Linked DNA regions of Homo sapiens: region 2 is linked to region 1. The links come from fine-mapping of genetic effects on gene expression. A gene starts in region 1. The other region holds a variant in brackets. All regions are shown on one strand. Distances are between the middles of the regions.

What was found. PIP is the estimated chance that this variant, and not a neighbour inherited with it, causes the effect.
Region 2: its variant is the best candidate, but not a certain one, in a credible set for the expression of RAPH1 in whole blood (INTERVAL, PIP 0.88).

Annotation. Positions count from the first base shown.
Region 1 is chr2:203,533,046-203,538,424 of GRCh38, reverse strand. It overlaps RAPH1 (Ras association (RalGDS/AF-6) and pleckstrin homology domains 1), which reads left to right and starts at 3,124. Exons shown (of 14, transcript NM_213589.3): 1 at 3,124-3,314. RefSeq lists silencers at 2,976-3,045, 3,096-3,185, 3,256-3,355.
Region 2 is chr2:203,894,713-203,900,091 of GRCh38, reverse strand. No RefSeq gene overlaps it. Among named protein-coding and RNA genes, the nearest start is that of CTLA4, 30 kb to the right of the region's middle. The variant C/A (reference allele first, on the strand shown) is at 2,488.

The sequences.
Region 1 (5,379 bases):
CATCCATGTAAGATGTGACTTGCTCCTCATCACCTTCTGCCATGATTGTGAGTCCTCCCCAGCCATGTGGAACTGTAAGTCCATTAAACCTCTTTTTCTTCCCAGTCTCAGGTATGTGTTTATCAGCAGCATGAAAACGGACTAATACACTTACGGTGCCTCTAAAGCATGGTGATGCTTGGTGCTTCCACACACCTGCAGAGATATTGTTTTCTTCGTTTGGAATGCTTGTTCCCTCCTTCTTCTGGTTAGCTCCTCCCTATCATTTAACATTCAGTTCAAGAATCTCCCCATCAGGAAGGCTTTCCTGATCTGGTAATGGACTTCCAGTCTAACAATGACTTCCTTACCTGCTTTACCCACTAGACTGTATGCTTTTTGTAGGCAGGAAGCATCATGCCACGTCTTTCTTGTCTTTGTATTCCTGGGCCTTAATTGTAGCTTAATAAACTCTGATTGAATGAACGAATGATTTAATGGTTTAAAGAAACTGATGAGAACACTCTTTTCTCAATGACTGAAAGTGACCTTTTTTCTCTTTTAATTAACCTTGATCTTAGGCTAAGCACTTGGAGAAGAGTTGGCTAAGACCTATGTAAAAGGCACTCAATGGTCTATTTTTTTTTTTTTTCTGAGATGGAGTCTCACTCTTGTCACCCAGGTTGGAGTGCAATGGCAGGATCTTGGCTCACTGCAAGCTCCACTCCCAAGTTCAAGTGATTCTCCTGCCTCAGCCTCCTGAGTAGCTGGGATTACAGGCACCCGCCACCATGCTCAGCTCATTTTTGTATTTTTAGTAGAGATGGGATTTCACCATGTTGGCCAGGCTAGTCTCCAACTCCTGACCTCAGGTGATCCGCCCACCTCAGCCTCCCAAAGTGCTGGGATTACAGGTGCGAGCCACCACTCCTGGCTTCAATCGTCTATTTTTTTAAGGAGGTTTAAATGAATCATCTTCCTTGTAAGGTATCACACAGCCTAGTACATTTAATGACAATAGGATTCATTAAGTTTGGCACCCAGGTGTGTCTAATGTCAACAAACTTGGTCACAAGGGAAATGAGGTGAAAGACTAGATACATTTGTATAAAATTATCACTTATGAAAAATTTTAAAGCATTTATTAATTTATAAATACTTATTGTGCAAGATACTATGCTAGATATTGTGGGAGATACAAGGATGAATAAAGTGTTGTATTATATTCACTTTTGGAGGATAACTTCTTGAAATAATTAGGTGGCAAATGATGATTCCCACAAGAAAGGAAGAGAAGTCTAAAAGAAGTTGGTCAGCAGGATCATCTTCATTTATAAGAGATAGTATTATTCTTTTATTATTTTTATTTTTTATTATACTTTAAGTTCTAGGGTACATGTGCACAACGTGCAGCTTTGTTACATATGTATACATGTGCCATGTTGGTGTGCTGCACCCATTAACTCATCATTTACATTAGGTATATCTCCTAATGCTATCCCTCCCCCCTCTCCATCCCCCCAACAGGCCCCTGTGTGATATATTCCCTGCTTTGTGTCCAAGTGTTCTCATTGTTCAAGTCCCACCTATGAGTGAGATCATGTGGTGTTTGGTTTTCTGTCCTTGCGATAGTTTGCTGAGAATGATGGTTTCCAGCTTCATCCATGTCCCTACAAAGGACATTAACTCAACCTTTTTTATGGCTGCATAGTATTCCGTGGTGTATATGTGCCACATTTTCTTAATCCAGTCAAGAGATAGTATTATTCTATACAAGAATATTGACATACCTACTGAACTTAAAATACAAAAGGGCAGTTATGTTTCAAAAGTACAGATATCTCAAGTGTGAAAGGCAGCCAGTATCTGTATTGTATGGTTCTAAATACCAATTTGAAACAGATTGTGTACCAGTTTGGAACAGATTGTACAAAAAAGACTGAAACCACTTGAAAGTCCTCAAGAATATCAGGAAGTAAGAATGTAATTAACCAAACCAGGATTTGGCCCCAGGACAGAGAAATGAACACTCTCATTCTTAGAGAGGGAGCTAGGATTTCAGGAATGTACAGTCAATGCTTTGTGAAAATTTAAATAAATTCTTAGCAAGCAGATGGGAAGACATGAAAAAGCAATGTTCATTGCAACCAATTTCAGGTCACACTCCCAATTTCTCAATTGTTTTAATGCTGTCAACAAACTTGCTTTGCATGTAGCCAAGCAAACATAACTTAGTTCCATTTGTTCCTTTCTTTGATCAACTTTAGGTGAAGGTCAAAATAAGGACATACTTAAAATCTAAAAGTCTGCCGAAGTCAAGCCTGCATCTAAAGAGGCAGCAGCTGAGCTTAGCGATAAGGAAAAATGCCGACACCTTACTACTACACAATTCCGATGGGGTGGGGGGACAGAAATTAAGGAGGCAGGATTAACAGATTTCGAAGTTTAAAAAGTAAAGGTCATCGAAATGTCCCGTTCCTAAGTTTCCCAATACATTCCATGAAACTGCAGAGACTTTTTGGCCAAAATGGGATTTCCTAAAGAAGGGCCTCACAGATCTCAACGACAATGGTCCTGTAAGTGACCGAGCCAACCCCGGATGCGTTTCTGGAGTCTCTGAATACACGGACAGCGTATAAAGGTGGATGCGTACAGCTCCCTGACAGAACTGCTGGAGGCTGCTGTGCCTCCCAGGGCGCTAGGACAGAGGCTGCTGGGCCGGCTTCCTATGAAAGGCGAGCAGGGGGTGGGGCAGCACTGGGATTTTCCTCCCCACTCATTCATTCTCTGATTCACTCGTTCCTGTAGGCGGCTCACAGGGACTTGCGGAGGAAAGGCGAGGCACGAGCGGAGCCGCGGTTGAGTGCGGCCGGGCGCGGCCGGGCGCCTGAAGGGAGGGCGGAGGGCCGGCGCGGGGCGCGGGCTAGGGAAGGGCGGCGGGCGCGGCGGCCTGCGCCGGAAGTGAGTGGTTGGCGGCGGGCGGGGGCGGCGCGCGGTCCCGCGCGAGTCGGCCCTACAGTCGGCAGTCCGGCCCTCAACCCCGCCTTCTGCGTCTCGGCTGGACGCGAGCACACTCGGCTCCGCCGCCGCCGCCGCCGCCGCGGGGCGCTGCGGCCGCCCCGCCCCCGCTCCCGCCGCCGCCCGCCAGTCAGTCAGTCAGTCAGTCAGTCAGTCAGTCAGTCAGTCACTGAGCGCGCGGCGCGGGAGCTGCTGGCAGTCGCTGCGTCTCTGGCGAGGGAGCGCCGCGCCTGGGGAGGAGGCGGAGGCAGCGGCTGGAGGAGCGCGAGCGGCGGTTTCCTTGCCCGGGGCCGCGGGAAGGCCGACCGACTGCCGCGGTGAGTGGTTAGCCTCGCCCTCGGGGCCAGGGGGTAGGGAGCCGGCTGGGCGCGGGGCCGTGAGGCGCTCCTGCCGCTCCCGCCTCCATTTTCCCGGCGCCCGGCCCCGCCATCCGGGTGCGGTACGGTCGGCGGCAGCCTGGGGCGGGGTCGTTGCCAGGTTGGGGATCGGGCCGGGGCTGGCTGGACCGCTCCCGGCTGGTGGATGGAGGTCGGTGGGGCCTGGACTGCACCCTGCGCCCCTGGGGACCGCGACGGAGGGAGACAATGAGATAAGGGGCCGCCTGGGAGGGTGCGGTTAGGCTTCTCCGACCCAGCACCGGGGGCTGGTGGCCCGGGACCGCAGGGAGGAAAGGACTTTCCCCCGCCCAGCTGCAGAAACCAGCTACTGGATGTCGGGTTGCTTGGGTTTCGATGCCCCCATCTTTCATAGATGAGTTCAGTGCAGAGATTTTGAAAGGCGGGGCTCCTTCTGTGTCTTCTTTCTAATTAAACAGGATAAGTAATTGCTTCATTGCTTTTTAACCGCGTCTCCTCTTGCGGTCTGTATTATACATTCCCGCCGGAAATCCAAACTGCAATTCATGGGGGGGGGGGGGGGGTGGACGGAGGGAGGGGGCAGTGTGATAGTATTAGGATGCCTTCGTGTTAAGACAGGTTGAAAGATGTGGTTTTCTTAAGGCAGTGACTTAGGGTGTCCCCACTGTGTGAGCTGGAAACCGCATAAACCTTATTGCTTACAAGCTCGAAGACATGGTTTAATATGAAATAAGAGCCTTGAGGGAGGGTGTAAGTGTTACATGTGTCTTGCGTGTGTGCATTTCTTAAATTCTTTGGGAAGATCCGTTGGGGAAATCCGGGAGAATGGAAAAGTTCTTCACTCAATCTTCCAATAAGGGTTGATGTTGTCTGCAGCATTTCTCAGGGAAATGTGGAGAGCTGCTTATGTAGGTAAAGTCCACCGTTAAGGAACAGTAAAGGTAACGGGTTAGGGATGAGGCGTGATCGGATTATTAAAGAGTCAGTCCATGGGGATATTAAATTCAGCAAACATTTATGGAATACCTACTCTGTCAGTTAGGCTGGGTGACACCAGGTGAACAAGCATGGGGTGGTGGAAAGAGCTCTTCGGAGTGGGGGAAACCGTACGCCCTGGAATTGGCTTGCAATGTGAGTTGGATAAGCTATTGAACTCTGCAGTACGTTCCCTATCAGTAAAATGGGAATAACACCACCTGTTTACCTCCCCAGATGTTTTTCATGTAGATTAAATGAGATAATGTATGCAAAATGCGTAGCACCTTGCCTGGCATAGAGGTGTTTAACAGCACCTTAAATTCCTTTCCTCCTCGGGGTGGTTTTTTTGGGGGTGCGGTGCGGGGGGTTAGTGAATGTAGGTAAGTGTAATACAGTGAACTATATAGTAAAATGTTGAGGTATAGAATAGGAGAGCGAAGAAGAGAGATTAATTCTAAATTGAGGGAGGAATGCATGGAAGCCTCGGCATTTAAGTGAAACCTTTAAGGATGAGTAGGATTTCAGCAGATTCAGATGGGGAGGAGGACATTTCACATGGTGGTGCTATCCTTTGAGAGCCGAATTGAGGGGGAGGACCTTTGGGGGAGGGGCAAAATAGAGACGCTCAATAGCTTTTAACTCTTGTTGAGTCTGACCTTCAAAGATTGTCTCCGTTATTTTGCTTTTTGTGTGGTGAATTTCCCAGAAACCAGATGCAGCCCTACTCAAGTAAGTACAAAAAGCTTAATTCATGATTTTTTGGGTTAGACATTTTGTATAATTTAGATTGCTGTCTCCTGTTTGAATGTAATAAAGAATTATTTGTAGATGTTGCCTTATGATAAACGTTAGCTTTATTTGGTAGAAGCAGCAGCTTATTTTTCAGACTCAGAGGTCTCACTAAGATTATAGAGTATGTGACTGGGTGAAAGGAGTGGAGTAGTGGGCACTATTGGGTGTGTTTTCACAAATATTTAACTCTTTATTTTCCAAAGAGGTGTTTTTAACCATTGTCTTTGAGGATGATTATGTCTTTTGGTTTTGCTGC
Region 2 (5,379 bases), 360 kb before region 1:
CAACCTGTGCTTACCCAAAACTGAGCCCAGGGACTGCAACAAGCTCTTCCCTTTAAAAGCCATGCTAATAGCATGCACAAGTTTAATCTCTTGGATTCTGAGTGGTCTCTGAGTGAGCAGCTTGGTGTAGGTGTCTTTCTATGTGTCAGTGTGCTTATTTGTGTATGTAAGTCCGTGCCCAAGAAAGTATGTCTGTGTCTACGTTCTGAAAATATTCTGCTCAGATCTCCTGGGGAAAAAGAAGAGCTATTAGCTGAAAATCTGTCTGTGAATAGAGAAAGCAGAATGCTCAGGAGAAAAAAATATTTCCCCTCTGGGAACCTAGATTCTCAGAAAAGGTATCTTCAGAGCTTATATTTGACAGATCATTGCCAATGTTTTGATTTGGCAAAGTAGACCTACCTCCCATATCTTAGAGAAATGGAGAAGGTAAGAAGAGGTAGTGTTGTGTGCCATGGTGGTTTGCTGCACCTGTCAACCCATCACCTAGGTATTAAGCTCCACCTGCATTAGCTATTTCTCCTGATGCTCTCCCTCCCCTGCCCCACCAACAGGCCCCAGTGTGTGTTGTTCCTCTCCCTGTGTCCATGTGTTCTCATTGTTCAGCTCCCACTTACAAGTGAGAACATGCAGCATTTGGTTTTCTGTTCCTGTGTTCTGTTCCTGAGGATAATGGCTTCCAGATCCATCCATGTCCCTGCAAAGGACATGATCCCATTCCTACTTAAAAAATTTAAATCCCTAGGATTTTAGAAGTACAAAAAAAACACTGGGGATAATCCCCTGTGATCCTTCTCATAGGGATGAGAAAATGGAGCACAGAGAGGAGAAGTAATTTGTCCCTAATCACACAGCCACTTGGTAACAGAAATGGGATTAGAAACTGGGTCTCAGGTCCAAGTCTATACACTAGACCAAGTGATCCAAAAAGATCTACACATGAAGATTCATGGTCTCCCAAAGTGCTTATTATGAAAACATGGGAATCAAGATCTCCCTTTCAACATCAAGAGATTTTGTGATGTTCAAGTGTAAAATTATTATATCCATGTATTAGTCAGGGTTCTTTGGGGAAACAGAATCGAGAGAGAGGGAGTAAGAGAGAGACAGATTTATTATACAGAATTGGCTCATACACTTTTGGAGGCTGAAAATTTCCAAGACCTGCAGTTGACAAACTGCAGACCCAGGAAAGCCAATGGTATGATTCTAATCTTAGAGTCCAAAGGCCTGAGAATCAGGAGAGCCAATGGTGTAATTTCTGTCTGAAGACCAGCAGGCTGAAGACACATGAAGAGCTGATGTTTCAGTTTGAATCCAGAAGCAGGAAAACAGAAACAAAAACAAAAACCTATTCCCAATTCAAAGACAGTCGGCCTTTGAATTGAAAGAGTTCCCTTTGACTCATTGAAAGGGCAGTATTTTTGTTCTATTCAGGCCTTTAACTGATGGGATGAGACCCACCCAAGTTTAGAGAGGGCCATCTGCTTTATTCAGACTACTGATTTAAATGTTAATCTCCTCAAGAAACATCCTCACAGACACACTTAGAATAATGTTTGATCAAATATCTGTGCACCTTATGGCCCAGTCAAGCTGACACATAAAACTAACCATCACAAATTGTTATTATTAGATTCCTGGGTCTGGGTAACAACAGAGAAGCAGAGTTGCACACACACCCTCCAATGCATCTACTTTTGATAATCACTTTGCCCAGGAGCTAGGGAAGATTGTGACGCTGGGGGAAAAAGAGGTATCAAGACCTCGCTGCTGAGCCTGTTCTTTTGGAGTTGGCCAAGAAAGCGGATAAATTAGAGCTACATATGATAACCTCATTGACAGTAGTATTTGAAATGTAAATCCTGATATTTTAGAATGAAATGGAAAAAAGAATAAAAAGGTAACATATAGCTTAGAAATTTTTACTCTTAAACTATAAGGAGGATTTTGAAAAGACAGAAAGTTTTATGAGAATGGCACTATCTCTTGAGATTTCTCTAGAAAGCAGGAGTCCCCAAGTTTTGGTGACAAGCAGCCACTTTTCATTCCCCCAAAGCTTTATGCCCACAAATGTAGTAGAGCAAGGAGGGAAAAGACCATAATAAAAACAGTGTGGAGGGGGTTACTCTTCCTTATGATTGAATTTTGGCAAATCACAGAGCTCTTTGCTGGTAGTTATAAAGATCTTGGAGCCCCACCGTGAAAAGATTAAAGACCATAGTTGGGGTTCATTGTCATTGACAGCTAACACCCTGTAAATGTTCAAAAGTAAAAATAACAGGAAGAAAAAATAAGAAAGAGCTCTATAGAAGTCACATAGAGTAATAAGATTACAGAAAATCAGAATGTCAGCACTTTCTAATGGGAAGTGAAAGACAGATAAGGAACTAACTATTTCAAGAAATTAAAAAAAAAAAGAAAGAAGGAAATTAAGAGAGGCCCCATGAAAATGATGGCTGTATTCATTGACTTAAATAACATTTT[C/A]TCTGGACCTTTGAGGGGAAAAAACATAATTATTTTTAGGTAAAGCACGTTTTGCAATTTCTTTGCCCTGGCTGCATATTTAGTACATTTTCAGGCCATCAACAGGATTACAGAGCCCAGAAAGTCCAATCAGAGGCAGGAAGGAGGCTTAGCTACTATTGGAGAATGTGATTCTATGGCTCATGCTGGCACCAATATCAGGGAGAATACCCCAAAATACCACAAGTGTAACATATCTGGGCAGCAATATCCTGTTTTTTAAAAAATTAAAGAGAAGTCAGTTAATCACCATCATTCTTGGTAGATCAAATCTGGTTACATCCATCTAAGCTGGCAACCCTCTTCCTACCACCTGGAAACCTTCCTACAGCGTGCAAATGACCCCCATCCTACCTGAGAATTTATCCCTTCATCGTCTGCCAGGTTAAAGAAAGGAGAAACAGGATCTGATTCTCAAGGTCACAAAAATGGCATCTTTTTTGTTGACCCCCTTCAGAACTGGGGCAAGGAGTAGAAAGATTGAGAGCAAAATATGTGGAATTGGGCTATAAATCAAATGAAAGAGACAAAAATTCTAAAAATGTTCTATATCTGCTTACTGTCCAGGCCATCATCAGGGAACTGAATTATGATCAGCTCAACAGGCTTCCTTTCTCAAGCTCCTTCCTCTGGAGTACCTTCTCTCCACCTCCATAACTGGCACACGCCTCTAGGGACCACCAGGACCAAGCCATAGGCCCTAAGGAAAGGAGATAATGGAAAGGGAGATTAGGAAGCTTGGCTGATTGTTTTCCAAGCCAGATTATTACATGAAACTAGATATACTATAGATTTTAACCTCAGAGAATAAGGTTTTTGTTTTGGGGGTTTGGTTTGTTGTTGTTTTTTTTTCCAAGAAGAATTAAATATTACAGAATTTGGAGGCATGATTGCACAGATACTATATGAGGAAAAAAACTTTTGTGCCACAACCGCTTAAAATTCTTTAAATTGCTAAGCCCAAAGATACTGAAACCTCACAGCAATATTGAGTAACAGATACACTAATCTTCTTTCTATCCTTTTTATAAGAAAAGAAGGTGGGACTCATAGAAATAAAGCAAAGTGGGTGACGGCAATTTAGAAGCCTGGCTGGGAGGTAAGCCTGTCCTTCTGATTTCAGAGTGTTTGTCTTTTTTTTTTTTTTTTTTTTTACTTTAAGTTCGGGGATACATGTGCAGAAAGTTCTGGGATACATGTGCAAAATATGCAGGTTTGTTATATAGATATACATGTGCCATGGTGGTTTGCTGCACCTATCAACTTATCATCTAAGTTTTAAGCCCCACATGCATTAGGTGTTTGTTCTAGTGCTCTCCCTCCCTTTGTCCCCCCAAAAGGCCTCAGTGTGTGATGTTCCCCTCCCTGTGTCCATGTGTTCTCATTGTTCAGCTCCCACTTATGAGTGAGAACATGTGGTGGTTGGTTTTCTGTTCCTGTGTTAGTTTGCTGAGAATGATGGACTCCAGCTTCATCTATGTCCCTGCAAAGGACATGAACTCATTCTTTTTATGGCTGCATAGTATTCCATGGTGTATACGTGCCATATTTTCTTTATCCAGTCTATCATTGATGAGCATTTGGGTTGGTTCCAAGTCTTTGCTATTGTAAATAGTGCTGCAATAAACATACGTGTGCATATGTCAGAATGTTTGTTTTTACCAGTGACCATAATACTTTCCTTCAGCATTCAGAAAGCAGAGAGGAAAGAGAGAAAAAAAGATAGAAAAACATAAAAAGGCTTTTTATTCTTTTTTCTGTTTTCTCTCTCTCTTTTTTTTTTCTGAATAACCTTGAAGCACCTGAGTACTCAAGTACCTGAGTTTTCTTTCCTGGCTCACTGTCATCAGACTTCCCCTAACCAATAAATTTTTTTTTCTTGGGTTTCCCCTGAATCCAAGTGTTCATTCCTTATTCTCTGCATCCCTCTTTTGATAGGTCCCATTTGTAAAGCCTAGGAAACTGGAACTGTAATGCCTCACTCCACCAAATCACATCATAATAGAATACTTAAAGAAGTCCTTGTGCTCAGAGTTCCTAGTGCTCATTATTATCTTCTTTTATTATTTTTTTTTTTTTTAGAGACAGAATCTTATTCTGTCACCCAGGCTGTAGTGCAGTGGCACAATTATAGCTCACTGTAGCCTCAAACTCCTGGGCTCAAGCAATCCACCTGCCTCAGCCTCCCAAGTAGCTGGGACTACAGGCACATGTCACCACAACCGGCTTATTATTTGCTTTAAAATTCACCAAGTTCATCAGCCAGACGAACAGGGCAAAGAAGAAACACTCACCAAGTTCAAATTCTAAATTCTAATGAATTACCTTAAGAGGGATTCTTGAAACATGAAGGGGGAAAGCAGAAGTGTTTCCCTTTCCTAATTTTATCCCACAGTTGGCAACGAGAAGAAGGGTTCAATTGTACCTAGAAACTCGTTCTGATGTAGCGCTTTATCTGCAATGGTCAACTCTAGCTGCACATTAGAATCAACTGGGGAGTTTTTAAAAAATAACGTTTATGTCCCAGCACTGGTGGTTCTAATTCAATTGGTCTATAACTGGTCTATGTTGGGACCCAAGCAGCAGTTTTTTGTGTTGTTGTTGTGGGGATGTGTGTGTGTGTGTGTGTGTGTGTGTGTGTGTGTGTGTTTTCAGACAGGGTCTCACTCTGTCACCCAGACAAGAGTGCAATGATGCAATTATAGCTCATTGCACCCTGGAACTCCCAGGCTCAAGCAATCCTCCTGCCTCAGACTCCCGAGTAGCTGGGACTACAGGTGCGCACCACTACACCCAGCTAATTTCTAACTTTTTTGTAGAGATGGGTCTCACTTTCTTGCCCAGGCTAGTCTT